Regions from separate parts of the Homo sapiens genome. Here region 1 is linked to region 2. The links come from fine-mapping of genetic effects on gene expression. Tissue or cell type: blood mononuclear cells. Region 2 holds a variant in brackets; the other region holds the start of a gene. All regions are shown on one strand. Distances are from middle to middle.

Region 1 (8,186 bases), 23 kb after region 2:
CCATTCTGTTGGATGTTTTAATCCCTAGTCTTCTATATTTTGTGTGTTAATGTGAAACTATAATGACACAAAAATATAACTAAAGAAAGGCAAAAAAAATTCCTTTTTATGCATAATAAATTATAAGGGGACACTTGGTTTTTGAAATATTTTAATCTCAAAAAATCAAGTTTGTCAAGATGATGCATTGTCAGAGGCAGTATTTTTGTCAAAATGACACCTTCAAAGGTAGCATAAATAATAAGAATCACTGTTCAACATTATGAGGCAATAATGTTATAAAAATAAGGGAACTAAAAAAAAAAAAATGGAAAGCAAAACATTATAATTATACCATTTCCAAAGCTGAAGTACATGGTTAGCTCTTTGAGGTCAGAATCTCAATTGTTCAGCTCCACCTGTATAGCCACTAGCAGAATGCCATGGAGATGGTCATAACAAATGTTCTTCGATTTAAGAAAGAAAACAAAGCAAGCATAGGACTTTATAGTCTACTGGAATTAACTTTAGAGCCTGTATATGACATAAATTGAAATGAGAACATATGGTACGGTATCTCTTTTCTAAAGTATCTCACTAAAGAAAAACAAATTGTTGATAAATGTAACTAAAATATGTATCTGAGGGTTAGTAAATATGAGTAGTTTTTTAGCGGAGAAAACTAAGTTACACAAGGACCTAATTAGTAGTGAAAAGTAGACTAGCCTGAAATTTAGGTGGTGGGGGTATGGAAGGAAGGATTAATATTAAAGAACTAATTTTGTAGAATTTGGTCATGCTAACAGTGTTTTTTTAAAAACAAACAAAACCCCCCCTCCCAAAAAACCAACAAGGAAGCCATTTCAGCAAGACCTGAACAGTTACTGCTAAATCTGTTTTGTGGGTTGGAAAATTATTTTACATGCTGACCAAGCTGGGCCAGAGCTTCCTGGGTGAAAAAACACGTTCACAACTACTTAAAACATATATACTTCCAAACCAATAAAATATAATTTATGGAGTGGAATAAGATTCAATAGCAAGATCTGCCCCATAGATAATGAAATCTTTACTTGAACAGCTTGAAAATATTTACAATGAGTAGTTTCAGAAGCTTTATTGTTTAATATGAAAATTTTAGAGAGAGACAAGAAAGGAGAGAAAAACATAACCAGTTGAAGGTTAGGTTTAACAAAATAGCCAGAATGAGCATTCACTCAGTAACAACTTAAAGACTCTTAATAGTGAAGATTAATAAGAAAGAAATGGTAAAACTTTCACTTATTTCCCATTTACAAAGAAAAAACAAAACAAACTGAGCACAGGAGGTTGGAGTTTTACAGTACTGTTTCTTTAAATGTTGGGGTTGGTTCAAGGAAAGATGCAAATAATTATTTTATTTAGTAGGAAGTGCTTTTTTTTTTTTCTTTTAAGCTGAATTTCATCCTGTTGCTGTGATGATTGAGTGACTGTCACTGGAAGACATCTGGGTTTTTGTATCAAGGCCAGAGTTGGCTATTACATTAACAAGAAAATTAAAACTTACTGTTGCAGGAGCTGGGGTGGGAGGTGGGGCATAAGATGGTCTTTCTGTTTGAAAGAAAATAAATAACTTCTTGTAAACAACTGAGATATAATACTATGCAACAAAACTACCAATGGTCCTGTTTTGAAGAAAAAAAAATGAGAGTATTTTGGAATTCCCACTTGCTAGGGCATTAGTCTCTTATTAACATAGATTGATAAATATAAAAATTGAAACTTACTTGACATTTTGGAAGATTAAGTTCTCAGTTCCTTAAGAATGAATCTGAGACACTAAAATAAAAAAAAAAGGAAAAAAAAAAGAGAATCAAAACTCAGCAAGCATACGAGAATGTTTTCCTAATGAATAGGGTAATTTAATTGGTATTTCTGAGTAAAATTACTTCACCTTAATTCCTAGTAATTAAGCCTTTTGTGTATTTTAACTAGTTCTTATAGGTCATTTGGTTGATTAGAATTAAATGACTAAAATAAAGTACTGGGGATATTTAGAAATGTACTTTCAGGTTTTTTCTTGTGATACTAAGCTACCTCTTGTATGGAAAACATTTTGCTGACGCCATGTAAACATTTCATCAGACTGATACAAGGATGAGAATAGAAAGTGATGTATTATCAGGGTCCAACGCAACAAGGCCTACCAGATACTGACAGCTCCCTGATCAGCAACTGTATCATGCTTTTGGGATAACAATTTTTATTAAAATTAGGCAGCATTTTATTCCTGGAAGCAGTGCAAAAGGTAATTGGTATGACAATGAACTTCACATTCTCTTATAATGGTAAATAGCTTCATAAATGCTGGGAATAAATTTTGAGAGTCTACCTGAAAAACTTTTATTCATCATTCACAGCCCATTTCAAAATTTTTCTCCTCAAGGGAACTTTCTTGATACATTACCTGGGCAGAATTAACTGCTCCCCCATCTGTATTCCTATACAGTTTACACAGATCTATATTATTATAACTTTTTTTTAACTTATCAATATGGCTAGATTGTATGCTACTTGGAAAGAGGGACCATGTCAGGACCTAGCTCAATTCTTAGGAAATTTTTTCCTAGTATTACCAGCTCACAACATAACCAGGCACATGTGAGCTTGTTCTTTACATCAACATACATCACAAATAGTGAGGTACAAAAAGACAAAAATTCATCTTTGGAAAGAAGGCAAATAAACTTCTATGACTATTGGAGGTATTTGCAACCAAACATGTGGAATAGATCTGATTTTTCGCTTCTATTATTAATTTTAAGGAAATTCCCTGGAGCATAAGGAATGAGTCCTGGTGTGGAAAGAAACAGCTCATTTTCTCAATGGTCCAACCTGAGTCTTTCCCTCTTAAAGAACAGCCAGAAACCTTTGACTCTGGTGTAGATTTCCTTTCTGCTCACATTAAGGGAGCTGTCAACATCCAGCAGGCCTCGCTGCAGGGGACCCTGACAACTAACATAAGCTCCCTGTACGTTATACTTCATTGTTAATACTTTAAAATTATTGCTCTCTTTTGCTAGAATACAAAATTTAAGAGTGGGCTTGTACATTTGTCCACCGTTGGATCCATCTTTGGTGCCTGGCATAAAAATAAATACCCGATAAATATTTGTTCAAGAAATACTTTATACGGGGTACGCTTATGACACTATTTCGCTTAACACTCACAAGTACTTTATATGTACAGCTATCCCCATTTTACAGATGAAACAAGGGAGTCTCGGAAAGTTTAAACAACTTGTCTGAAGCCATATGCAGCCAGGAAGTGCCAAAGTTGGGTTTCAAACCCAGGCCAAACTATTTCAGAGCTCTGCTCGTCCTCAAGTCGCTGCCTGAACCAATGGGGGAACCTTCTGCCCGGGTGGGGGGTGAACCACGGACCTGCCTTGCCCACGGCTTCCTGAGGTCGCTCTCTTTGTCTTGGAGAATGTACTTTACTAGCAACTCCCCTAAAACGGGGTATTCACAGGTGCTTTGACCAATTTCGGGGGACTGGCCTTGCCTCCAAGGAGGGGGCCCCAGATGGGACTCCCTCCCAACCCTCGCTCTGCTAGGCCTCAAGGAGGCCTCAACCGGCTCCTGGCTCTGGCCCCACGGCCAAGGCTGAACCCCAGCAACCCCCGGGAACTCGGGGTCTAGCCAAGCGGGGACACCACGACTTGCACCCACCGACCCGGTCCGTCCCACTTGGAAACACTCACCCGCGGGCAGAAAAAGCGCCCGCAGCTCCGGCTTCGCTTCCCTTTGTCCCGCGCTCGCCCCGCCCCTCGCGTCCGGAGCTTCCGCACTCGCACTTTCCACACTCTTCTTAATTTTTTTTTTTTTCCGGGCCCCACCCGACCCTCTTTAGAAAAACTAACCTTCTAGTGAAGATGCGGTGATGCTTAGCACACTCAGGGATTTTTTTCAGGACCCATTGGATCCTCAAAACTCCCCGAATTTTGATACTTTCCCAGCCGGGCGCTGATTCGTCACGGCGAAGAGGGCCGAGGAGGCCCGACCTAACACAGAATAGGCCTGGGTTTAGCGGCTGTGAGGAGCCGGAGCCGCCGCAGCGACCGAGGAAGTGGCGGGAGGTGCCGAGCCTTGCGGAGGGGCGGTGGGGGCCGCGGTGGGAGACGGCGGATGGCGCTCAGCGCGAGGCCGCGGAACCACTGTGGCAGCAAGCAGTTCGGCCAGACTCCCGCTGAGCCCGCTCCTGGAGGGGCCCTCCCCGACTCCGGTCTTGCTTTCCTTTAGGCTGTGGGTCAGAGTCTACACTTCACTAAACCTGGGATGGAGGCGTGGAGGACTTGCTTCGCGGCGTTTGCGTCCTCGCAGGCGCCTCGCAGGGCTTCCTGCCCTCACGGCGGGGGAGTAGCTTTGGCGAAAATCAGCACGAGTTCTGCAGTTTTTCCAAGCGCTTTTAGGGTGTAATCGTCCCAGGTTTCTAAGCCAAGGCCCGGAGAGTTGACCCCCTCGCAACAGCTTGTGTGTCCTTGCAGCGCCGCGGGTGCCACCTGGTCTCCGCCTCAGCGCTGCCTCGGCTCCTTCGGTTCCCACCAGCGGGAACGACCGTCCCCACTTTCAGCTTAAACTCATCTGTCCTTCTGGATCCAGCTCAGAGGTCTCTTTGTGATGCCCTCCTGGAACTTCCCCCCTAGTAATCCTTCCTTTGTATTCCCGTGGCTCTTTGATAATAATGGTTGGAGTCCTGAACCCGACCCTTTGTATCGGACCGTGTTTGTCATCTCCAGTGCTTTATGAAGGCCTTGAAAGCAAGGTTCAGCCGTCTGTATTGGTCATCTTCCCATTGCCAGTGCCTACGAAGGGCTTGACCCATTCATTGTTAGACGCTCAGTAAGTGTGTATTGAGGCAGCCCTCTGTGCCACTCCAGGGCTCTTTCCACTAAATCATGAGTATGTTGGTTTACCAGATGGAATGAGTAGCCTCTTCTTTGGATACATAAACACCCGATGGATATTGTGGGTCACTGTGGAGGGAGAATGAACGTATGGGATCCCTGACCTGTGGTTACTGGAAAACAGTTGACATTTAGAGAGAGGCTGAATTCTTGGGCTTCCCGTAGCCCCCATCCTGAGTGTGCCAACAGGGACTAGAAGCATCTCTAGTCTGCAAAGCGAGGAACAAGTGATACTCTGTCCAATTTTTCCAATATTGTTATACTCATGAATAGAGATTAATGAAATTGAAGAGCATATTCAAGAGAAAGACTAAAGGAGAAGTCGTCTGCCCCGTGGACAGGCAGCTTGAGTGGTGCTTGAGAAAATGTACATGAAATTGCTTGTTAAAAAATATTCACGCCTGTAATCCCAGCTCTTTTGGGAGGCCGAGGCGGGCAGATTACTAGGTCAGGAGATCGAGACCATCCTGGCTAACACGGTGAAACCCCGTCCCTACTAAAAATACAAAAACAAAATTAGCCGGGCGTGGCGGCGGGCGCCTGTGGTCCCAGCTATTGGGGAGGCTGAGGCAGGAGAATGGCGTGAACCCGGGAGGCGGAGCTTGCAGTGAACGGAGATGGCGCCACTGCACTCCAGCCTGGGCGAGAGAGCGAGACTCTGTCTCAAAAAAAAAAAAATTATATATATATATATGTATATATCCATCAGAGACATGTAAAGGATTAAAGTACGATACACAAAGGCCTCAGAAGGGATTTCAGTACATTCTTTTTCTGGCTTCGTCCAGCAACTCCAGCCTGGTTTCTTCCCTGCCTTTGGGATTATGGTGGGAGGATTGGGCGAGTGCAGTGCTGGGGAGGCGCTGTGTGTTGTCTCTAGGCAGTCCTCTGAAGAAAAACTGCAGGTTTTGGATGTTAAGAATAAAGCACCCTATAGTAGGAAAGGGGTGGCCCAAAAACGGCAAAAAGGGAAAGGAGGGGACCTAAGTGGAGCAGTGACATTGTCTGATACACTTTCTCACTGGGTTTCTGCTCAGATGTCACCTTCTTAGTAGGTGTTTCCTGACCTTTTTAAAATTGCATCTCATTCCCCAACCCCCGGTGTCTGTTCATGGCCTGTGCTTTACTTTTTCTGTAGCACTTGTCGCTACCTAACATACTATACTTCTTATGAATTTATTTTGTTTTGTCTTTTTCTTCTTCTTTTCTTTTTTTTTTTGAGACGGAGTTTCGCTCTTATTGCCCAGGCTGGAGTGCAATGGCGCGATCTTGGCTCACTACGACCTCCGTCTCCCGAGTTCAAGTGATTCTCCTGCCTCAGCCTCCCAAGTAGCTGGGATTACGGCATGTGCCACCACACCCTGCTAATTTTGTATTTTTAGTAGAGACGAGGTTTCACCATGTTGGTCAGGCTGGTCTTGGACTCCTGACCTCAAGTGATCCACCGCCTCGGCCTCCCAAAGTGCTGGATTACAGGCATGAGCCACCGCACCCAGCCGTCTTTTTTTTCCCATCAGGGTGGAGATTTTGACATCTGGAACAGTACACAGCACATTTAGATGCTCAATACTTGTGGAGTAAATAAATGAATGACTCATTTTCTTCGCTTGGTTCTTTCTCTACCAAAGATTTGAAAAATTAAGAAACACCAGCCTGGCAACATAGGGAGACCCCATCTCTTAAAAAAAAAATTAGCCAGGTGCGGTGGTGCACATTTGTGGTCTCAGTTATTTGGGACGCTGAGGTGGGAGGATCGCTTGAGCCTGGGAGGTCAAGGCTGCAGTGAGCCATGATCATGCCACTGCACTCCACCCTGGGTGACAGAGGCCCTTTCTAAAAAAAAAAAAAAAGAAAAGAAAGAAGGATATAGGCAAGAGATAATAGAAAAATAATCTGTTCTCTAGTCCTGAAGAAACTAAAACTGAAGAGTGAATTATCCAGCAAGATGGACTTTACTTATTATGAGTTTTTTTCCCCCAAAGCAAACACCAGAACATATGCTCTTGCCTTTAGAAGGATATTTATGGTAACTACAGGACAGATGTTTGGAGTTGTGATTATTCCCAGAAAATTTGGGATACAGCATCAATATGACTATTTAAACTAAATATAACTATAAGGGTAGTTGGGAGCACTCACGTGGGACCAGTGGTTAACCCCAGAGATAATCTTAGGCCCAATTAAGACCTAACTTAGGCCTTAGTTTTCATTCTGGCAGCAAGATCCAGAAACGTGGCCTGCTTTCCCCTCTGACACTACTCATACTTTTTTGGGGTTCTTCTTTCCCCAAGACAGGGAAGCCAAAACTAAGTAAGCTAAGGTTCTAGTCCAGGTGTCTTTGAGTTCTTTCCATTGTTCTGTGGGAAGAAACGGGTGATGGAGACAGAGTTAGGGGTAGGACTGGGAAGAAAGGAGAAAAAAGGAGAAAATAAGACAGAATAAGGAAAAACCTGAAGTCCTTGGACACCCAGTAGTCCATGAATAGGCTCTAAGTGATCTATGAACCCTTTAAAATTATACTCAATTTTTATGGGCTTTTTTCCTGATAGGTTAATTCTTTCATGAGATTTTCAAAGAGGTGCGTGACTCAAGAAAGATTATGAACCAACCACTGAGCCATGGAGTTTGTAGTATGTTCTTTTGAAGCTTTTATAATGGATTTTTTTTTTCTTAAACAAGGGAAAGCGAGAGCAAAGCTTTACTTGACCCAAATAGCCTATGAAAGTCTGATTATAGACAACATGATGAAACAAACTAATTTTCTCAGCTGTTTCTGTGAGAGCAGAAGGAGTTATGGGTATTCTGTTTTCTGTAGCTGGAAATAGTTGTGAAATATTGAAGTTTAGCAGCTTTCCAGGACAGAGTGATCCACACTGTTTTACAGAATTTAAAAAGCACGGTTTGCTTTGAGAACCCTCTATGTTGCCCTCAAAATAACCTGGAGGATTTGGGACATGAGTGTTGCCCCATGGTGTGGAAAAGGATGAACGTTGAAAACAGGGTAGAGCTGGAGAATCTGGGTTGTGGGGTCTATTATCCACTGATAATATTGGGAGTCTAGGGCACAGTAGCCAAACGAGATTGTTGCAGGCCGTTATCTGGGCTGCCTCCTGTTTTTGTAATAAACCCTTATTTGGACACAAGCACCTTCATTTATTTACGTATTGTCTTTGGTTGCTTGTGGTTACAAGGGAAGGGTTGTGTAGTTGTTACAGGGATCCTATGGCCTGAAAAGCCTAAAATATTTGCTCTCTGGGCTTC
Region 2 (8,186 bases):
ACTTGAGGCCAGGAGTTGGAGACCAGCCTGGCCATCATGGCAAAATCCCGTCTCTACCAAAAATACAAGAATTAGCTGTGCATGATGACGTGTGCTGTAGTCCCAGCTACTCGGGAGGCTGAGTTAGGAGAATTGCTTGAACCCAGGAGGCGGAGGTTGCAGTGAGCTGAGATCACTCCATTGCACTCCAGCCTGGGCAACAGAACGAAACTATCTCAAACAGAACAAAACAAAACAAACCCTCCGAAACCCACAGAGCTAGTATTTACAAGTTGGAATGTCATCATTGTGAATGTTTCCATCTGCACAAATATCTGGAAAACGACTATTAGGATACCAGCCTTTATTACTGCTCTATTAAGAGAAGCCATTTGCTCCTAAGCCCTTCGCTCTCTTAAAAAAATCATTTTAAGAACTGGAGTGGTTATGAGAAAAGCACCGGTGCTTTTAAAGATTTGCAGAAGGGGGAAAGGTCACTTGGCTGTCAGTTTGAGTTTTTATCTCATAGATGGGGTACCTATCACTCACAGAACTGGAGTCGGATAGACCTGAGTGGGAATCCTGTCTCCATCATAAATTAACTGTGTGATCTTGGACAAGTTATTTAACTTTTCTAAACCTCAGTTTCTCCATCTTTAAAACAGAGATGATATTCATAATATGTCATTAAAAAGTATAACATTAGAATGTGTCGCACACTGAAGAACGTCCAACTCTTGGCAAAGTTCAGTCCAACTAGGCTTGAACATGTTTTTAAAAATATCCTGAGGCTCTGCTCTCCCCGGAAGAAGCTGTAAAGAACAATTCCAGCCCTGGCACTGAGACAATTGGATCTTAGATGAGTCATTCACTTCTCTTTTTTGGGGCCTCAGTTTCCCCTTTGGTAAAATGAAGAGATTAAACCAAATCAGTGATTCTCCAAACTTTGCTAGTCTGCTAGGCTTCTCCTTAGTAGCCTCTAATTCAGTAGTCTTGGGTGGGGTTCAGACAGCTTCCCTAGGAGATTCTGTGCTCAATCTGAGAGCCACCCACCTAAGAACCACAACCACAGCCACCTAGACTCTGACTGACATTTGATGGCTTCAAGGAGGTATTTTAAAGCTATTGTCCCAGAATACGTGGTGTGTTTTTTGAGGAGGAGGAAGATCTATCCACGGCACACATCAGGAAGAGGTGGTTAAAGGTCAGAGAGTTATTCTGCAGAAAATCCATCTGATTTGGTACTTCCTGAAATTTTTGACACCCAACCAGGGATGTCTTTTAAAAGGTTCCCCACTGCTCACAGATTGACAGGAAACCACAACAGGGGTAAAATGCACGCATAACACAGCATACATCAGACATGAGGGTAGTTCTCTATATAGCACAGTATTTTTTATTATTGTAGGCTTACAAATGATTTAAGTCTGTGTGTTTGTGTGTGTGTGTGTACTTTTTCATTTTGGTGGTATGGAAAGCTTTGGAGGGAAGAAGGAAAGGATTCCACAAGGAATAGTTTTTCCATATACATCTCCCATTGCAAGAACACTGATCTCCGAGTGGATTCTTTTGTCTTGAGTCTTTTGAATTATTGATCCACAATGATGAAATCCCTAGCACAGATGTTCAATCTTGATGTCATTTAATATCTCGTACAACAGCCTGAGGCTAATTTTCCTCTCTCCAGGAAAAATGGTTTGTAAGAGTTGATTGATCAACTCAAGCCCAAGATCACAAATATAAACTTCATTGGTAAAGTGATCTACTCTAATATTATCTTCAGGGATTAGAAAATAAAAAGTATAAAAAGTGCATGAGCATACAGTAAGTGCTCAACAAATGTTGGCTTTTATTATTATTAGGTGATCATGGAATTAACTTTCACTAATTTGCCCTTGAGTTATAAGCCGCTGTTGACCCGGGGATAGTTTCTAAAAAGACAAATCTCCTGCAACTGCAGGTAGCAGAAGATAGACCTTCCCATTAGTGCTGTCTTCTCCTAAGCGTGTTATCCAGACCACCATGTGGGATCCTTGGGATGATTTTGGGTAGTACACAGACCATTTAAATAATGTTCTTTGAAAAAAAAAAACTTTATTTAAAAAATAGAGACAGGGTCTTGCTATGTTGCCCAGGCTGGTCTTGAACTTCTGAACACAAGCGATCCTCCTGCCTTGGCCTCCCAAAGTGCTGAGACTTGGCCTTAAATAATACTCTTTTAAATAGTACGTATTTAGGCCTAAAGAGAACTACTAAAATATTTGCGTTAAGGTTATTTTCTTTTTTGACAAAAGACAATGGTTTTAACATTTATGCTGATATACAGTTTCCCTTTAAAATAAATCATTCAAGTGGAAGAAGCTGATTCAAAGAAAGCTGCTAAGTAATAATAGCACAAGTTGTACCCAGAAATGGTAAAAATTGTGATGGTGGCATGCAAATGACCGAGTTTGAGAAGTACTAGATCAGTGAACTGAACCTGTGTGCTCCCCGTTGGGCTACATCTGAAAACATTCGTCAACACTCATTTCATGGAGCTTGAATCCGTAGTACAGTTACAAAACTTCTGTGCTGTACAGGACCTTGAGGTCATCGTGGGACCACCCCTGTATTTTAGGCAGATGGTTTCCATGATCTGGAGATGTTGTGTCTCAAGTGCAATACACTGGGGAGGAAACACGACTTTACCAGATTAGAGAAAACCATGTTTGAAAAGAGACAGTCCTTCTATCCCAGGAGAGACACATTGGAGGGGAGACGACAGGACAATGAGAATGTAAACTATCTACGTTCCAAATTTTTCTGTACATTAAAAAAATTAAAAATTCTAAAAAAGAAAACGGAAATTGTCTTCTGAAAGGATCTCAAGGAGCACATGTCTTGAAATACCTGAAGATCTTTTACTTGGAAGGTGATGACATGTACTCTAATTGACTTCAAGTTGTGTAAGAGGGAGGCTGAAATTATAGGAAGACAGATTTTTAGTTCAGTGAGAGGAAATACCTTTAGTGAACTAAAGAAGGAATGAGCTATCTTAAGACATGATGGGCTCCCCAAGACTAGAAGTATTTATTTAAACAGAACCATGACGACCTTAGGGGACCTGGGACCAAGTGCTAGACGGGTGTGGAGGTGGCTGACCGAGGGTCCTTGCTGCCCCTTAAAGTCAAGGAGTTTAAGGCAGCCTTTCCTTTCTTTCAAGTGGCTCCTCAAAGGGAGCCATTATCTGCAGCTACTGTCTCAGTTTTATGTAAAGAGTATTTATCATTTGGGAATTTCCCCTCCCCATATAATACTTTTGACTCCTGAATGCATGCAAAAGAGCTGTAAGAAACTTTCTGGTGCTAAATGAGAAAATGTGTGAACATAAATGAGCTAGTTTAACTAAAAGTTCACCAAAATGTATTTTAAACATCAGGCTCTTAAAAACTCAATAGTTTGAAATTTGCATTTTAATCAGCGTTTGGCTAACAATATGAGATAAACTATTAGAGAAGTGTAGGTCATTCTGGCAAATAGAAAGTTCCATCATTTCACACTTAGAAAGCTGCCACGAAGAGCTTATTCTTGGAGTATAAAATGCAGAATTTAGGTTAAGCCAGTCATTTTGTAGATGAAATTGTACACTGGCAATTTCTTATGGTTCAACCTAATAGTAAAACATTTATAAACAATTGTATCATTACAAATACATTTAGACATCGTTTTCTGCTAAACTCAGTATTTTCCTTTCCATCCTGATCAAAGAAACATTATTGCAGTAAGCCACATTATAATTCAGCACGATTTCTTCTAAAAAGGCTCCGAGTTCCTTTGAGCTTGTTATTGTACAGTGGATTTTTCATTTGCAAAGACGTTAAGCCCTCCAAATGTGCAAATCATGAAGTCAGTTGTTGTTCCAGCAAGGTTTGCCCAGCGGTAAAAAACAAGATAAAACTAATGCACTAGCTGAAACCAGGTGGGGAGACCATGTGTGGTAGTGCTTGGGGGTGGAGGGAAACTATTTCTGAAATGAGGACTTAAAGTATAATACCAGCTTCACTGCCTGTTCACGAGAAACCAAAGCTTCAATTTAACTGCAGGCAATAGGAGTTTCACACTGTCAGCACCAACTGTCTAAAATCCAAAACTAGTATCTAAATGTGTAGGATCAAAACCAAAAATCTGGAGGGATCTAGTTAAACTTCAATATGCATGACCCCAGATTCCCCTTTAAAATATAGTCCAAGTATTTTATCTTTTCCATAGGGCATTGACATTATTGTGTTAATGTGAAATAGCTATTTACCTCTCCAAACCTCGGCTTTATAGAATAGATAATTATCACATCCTGTAGGAGAGCCATTTGAAAAGACAGCCTTGTTTACAGACAGGAGAAGTTACAGAATTTAAAACTGTTAGAAAATTGGGGGACTATGGGGCTGGGCGCGGTGGCTCACGCCTGTAATCCCAGCACTTTGGGAGGCAGAGGAGGGTGGATCAGGAGGTCAAGAGTTCGAGACCAGG[C/T]TGGCAAACATGGCAAAATCCTGTCTCTACTAAAAATACAAAAATTAGCCGGGCGTGGTGGCGGGCGCCTGTAATCCCAGCTACTCAGGAGGCTGAGGCAGGAGAATTGCTGAAACCCAGGAGCTGGATGTTGCAGTGAGCCGAGATGGCGCCATTACACTCCAGCCTGGGCAACAGTCAGACTGTCTCAAAAAAAAAGGAAAATTGGGTGACTATCGAGGATTCCCCTCTCCCATTTGTTAAAAAAAATTAACAAAATTTAGGCCCTCAGACTTTATGCATTCATACTCAAAATAAATGCACTAAAAATCAAGGAGCAGTAAGGGCACCAAGAAAGAGCAGTTTGATCTATTTTATAATTAAAACAGGCTCGAGTTCAAGCTACTTGCCCAGCACCTTTTGGGACATGGGAAAAAAACAAAGACCTCTACCATATCCCACATTCTCTAAACTGAGAACCATCTCAAACATCAAGTCTACATATATCACTCTGACCAAGTGGATTTTTACATCAATCTTCCCCTGCTGAGGTTCAGAGCTGTCAAATCCCAACTGAGGCCGGGCACAGTGGCTCACGCCTGTAATCCCAGCACTTTGGGAGACTGAGGCAGGCGGATCACCTGAGGTCACGAGTTCAAGATCAGCCTGGCTAACATGGTGAAACCCCATCTCTACTAAAAAATACAAAAATTAACCGGGCATGGTGGCGAGAGCCTGTAATCCCAGCTGCTCTAGAGGCTGAGGCAGAGAGAATTGCTTGAACCTGGGAGGTGGAGGTTGCAGTGAGCTGAGATCGCCACCACTGCACTCCAACCTGGGCGACAGATTGAGACGTCTCCCATCTGACTTAATTCCCTCATCAACTGATTGCCAGTGTTGTATGGACAGGCTTGGTCTGGATAGACTTGTCTTCCCACTGCTATTTCCAGCCGGGCAAAAGAACCACTTCCATTCTCTTAGAGCTTTCGATACCACAGTAAATAACCTGGTATCTTGCTGGGGCAGTTTTCCACCCATATTAAACTACATCTGCCCCATTTTGACTACTAGAAAATGTATCAAAGAGGCTGTCCAATTTGTCTGAGATGAGATGGCTGAAGTTCTTAGCCAAATAATGGCCAAAGCTCAAAACAGATCTATTTGATACAAATTCGTTCTTTGACACACAAGGAAACAGATGTCAAGAGTTGTTTCCACCCAGTATCAAGCTTCCTCCCCTCCTCTCTCAGGAGGCTGAACACACATTCCTAGTCACTAATGTGCTATGAACTGAATAGCAGTGAATCCACTTAAATTAACTCATGCTGGTACAGAGTCCTCTCCATATAGGCACAGGACTTAACATTTATCATTTAGCCATTCTTTCAAAGATAATTCAAACGTTACAGATTTCTCCATATTCCTGTTAATGTAGAAACATATTCCCTTTACTTTTGGAATCAAAGACCAACTTCCATATGTGACAATGACTATAATGTAAGAAAACTGATTTTCACAAGTGTCTTGTACAAATAAGCTACTGCAGCAGTTTATAGAGATAGTTGGGTGAGACAAGGGCCCTGAGTACACAAATTTATAATGGCTGAGTGGTCATTCCACACTGTCACTGCATTACAGAAAAAAACTGGATGCTTGTCTTGCATACAAATATGTAGTGCATTAAAAACACTGAGACCTTTTTTTCATTTTTTTTTTTATTACATTTGGACCTTTAAGAAACATATACCATCAGATATACCACTATTCAGTAAAAATCTATTCTAGTTTTTGGGAAGCTTATGTGTCACAAACTATCTTGCTTCTAGTCTCCAAGACTTTACTAAGTTTATCAAAAAGGTGGGCTCTGGTCTATGGGATCCTGAGCCTTGAGGTTTGGATGTTCTGATTATTGTAAAACAATTTCAAGTGGATTAACTTAATTCCCAGCTGTTTTTCTTCTGGAATGGGCTAATCAGTTTGAATTATCTAGTCCATTACAAGAATATTAAATTCCTTGAGCTTTGTGATCTATTCTGTCTTTGGAAAACCTGGTAAAAAAGTAATTTTTTTTCTATACAATAAGGATGGATTTACCAGAACATACCCAGTATTAATCATAACAAAAAGCAGTATAGATAATGTATATGTGCTGTGTTCACTTTAATAACCACTTCATAAGTAACTACTCTAACTATGGGGACTATTTCTGGATCAGTAAGATCCAAGTGTAGTTAGTTACACACTACACTCAGCTTAACACAACTCTTGGTATCTGACATTGATTAAAAGTAAAAAAGGGTAAGTGAACAAATACATACTCATACATGATCACGTTTTTAAGAAGCTACCCTTTGCAGAAGTAAACAAGAGAGGAGACTTTCAGGAAGCTACTGATGGGGACTGGGAAGGTTTAAAGCTATGGCTTTGGTAAGCACCCCAGTGAGCTGTAGGAAGGCATTGTAAGAGTAGATTCTGCAGCATCAAAGGATAATTCTCTAAAAGAGGTGGGTGTTTTCTCAATTAATCTAAATTCTGAGGCTTTCAGCAGTTGAGGGCTAGAAACAAGATCCAAAGAAAAGAGCCATCTTCACAACACTTAAGAAAGGTGACTGACTGAGCCATTAGGCTCATGATGCTAAATGGTCCAAAAGCCTTTGGTGGTGTGATATGGACAAGAAAAAAAATTAATACACAAACCACGTAACACCATTAAAACCAAAAAACATTTTTTCATTAAAAAAAGTATTTAGAACACACAAAACAAGGCAACACTTATTCTTTTTTCTCATCTTCTGGTATGGGATCTGTTGGTGGCTCCTCCACTGTTGCACTGTTGCTCTCCGAGCCAGTGTTACTATCACTGGTTCCTTCCTCTGCCATACTGTCGACCCCCTCCTGCCCACTCTCCTTGTCCTCAGGAGTAGACGTGCCTTCTTCACCATTCTGTTGGCTCTCTGTTGTTTCTTCAAGGTGTGTCTCCTCTGTAATCACACATTTGTCACTGTCAGTTCCAAGATGAAATTTTACTCTAGTTATGCTGACAGTATACAGCTGTGCTGTCCAATATAGAAGCCACTAGCCACATGTGGTTATTAAACCCCTGAAATGAACCAGTGTGACTAAAGAACTTTTAAGAATGTTGGAACAATTTGGGTATGAAAATCTACTTTTTAGCTGTAAATGAATGAAATTTATTAAATAAATGCAGATCAAATACTTCCGATGAAAATTTAGCTTCTGAATTGAGATGTGTATAAAGACTGTTTAAAAAAAGGAAAGCTGATTTTAAAAATGTTCCTTCTGTGTTGAAATAATTTTATTTAGGATATGTTGAATTAAATAAAACATATTGTTAAAACACTTGTTTTGCTTAACTTTTAAAAATATGTCACTAGTAGAAAATATAAAATTTCACGTGACTTGCATTTTATTTCTGTTGGACAGTGAATGAGAGTTAGTCTGTAGTGCTATGGATTAAACGAGGAGAAAGCAGTTGTAGAAATAATATAAGGTTGGTCTTTTAGACACTTTGTTTAAAGTCATGCTGGGCTGTTTCCTGTAAGAAATTAAAAGCATGAGGTTTTAGCTCTAATAGTCTCAAACGATTTTCTTCAGGTTTTTTCCTTGAACTAGGACAGAATCTGAGTAAAGACCTGCAAACCTTAAGCATAAGACATGCCCCATTCATAGATGCCAAAACAGAGGCAAAGGACTGAGTGTTT

What was found. PIP is the estimated chance that this variant, and not a neighbour inherited with it, causes the effect.
Region 1: it holds the start of SMARCE1, and the variant in region 2 is fine-mapped to the expression of SMARCE1 in blood mononuclear cells (TOPMed, PIP above 0.99).

Annotation. Positions count from the first base shown.
Region 1 is chr17:40,644,051-40,652,236 of GRCh38, forward strand. It overlaps SMARCE1 (SWI/SNF related BAF chromatin remodeling complex subunit E1), which reads right to left and starts at 3,768. Exons shown (of 11, transcript NM_003079.5): 1 at 3,723-3,768; 2 at 1,746-1,797; 3 at 1,526-1,569. The coding sequence starts at 1,752. RefSeq lists a silencer at 4,007-4,301.
Region 2 is chr17:40,621,549-40,629,734 of GRCh38, forward strand. SMARCE1 (SWI/SNF related BAF chromatin remodeling complex subunit E1) reads right to left here. Exons shown (of 11, transcript NM_003079.5): 11 at 3,414-7,445. The coding sequence ends at 7,237. Among named protein-coding and RNA genes, the nearest start is that of SMARCE1, 22 kb to the right of the region's middle. RefSeq lists an enhancer at 2,318-2,457. The variant C/T (reference allele first, on the strand shown) is at 4,486.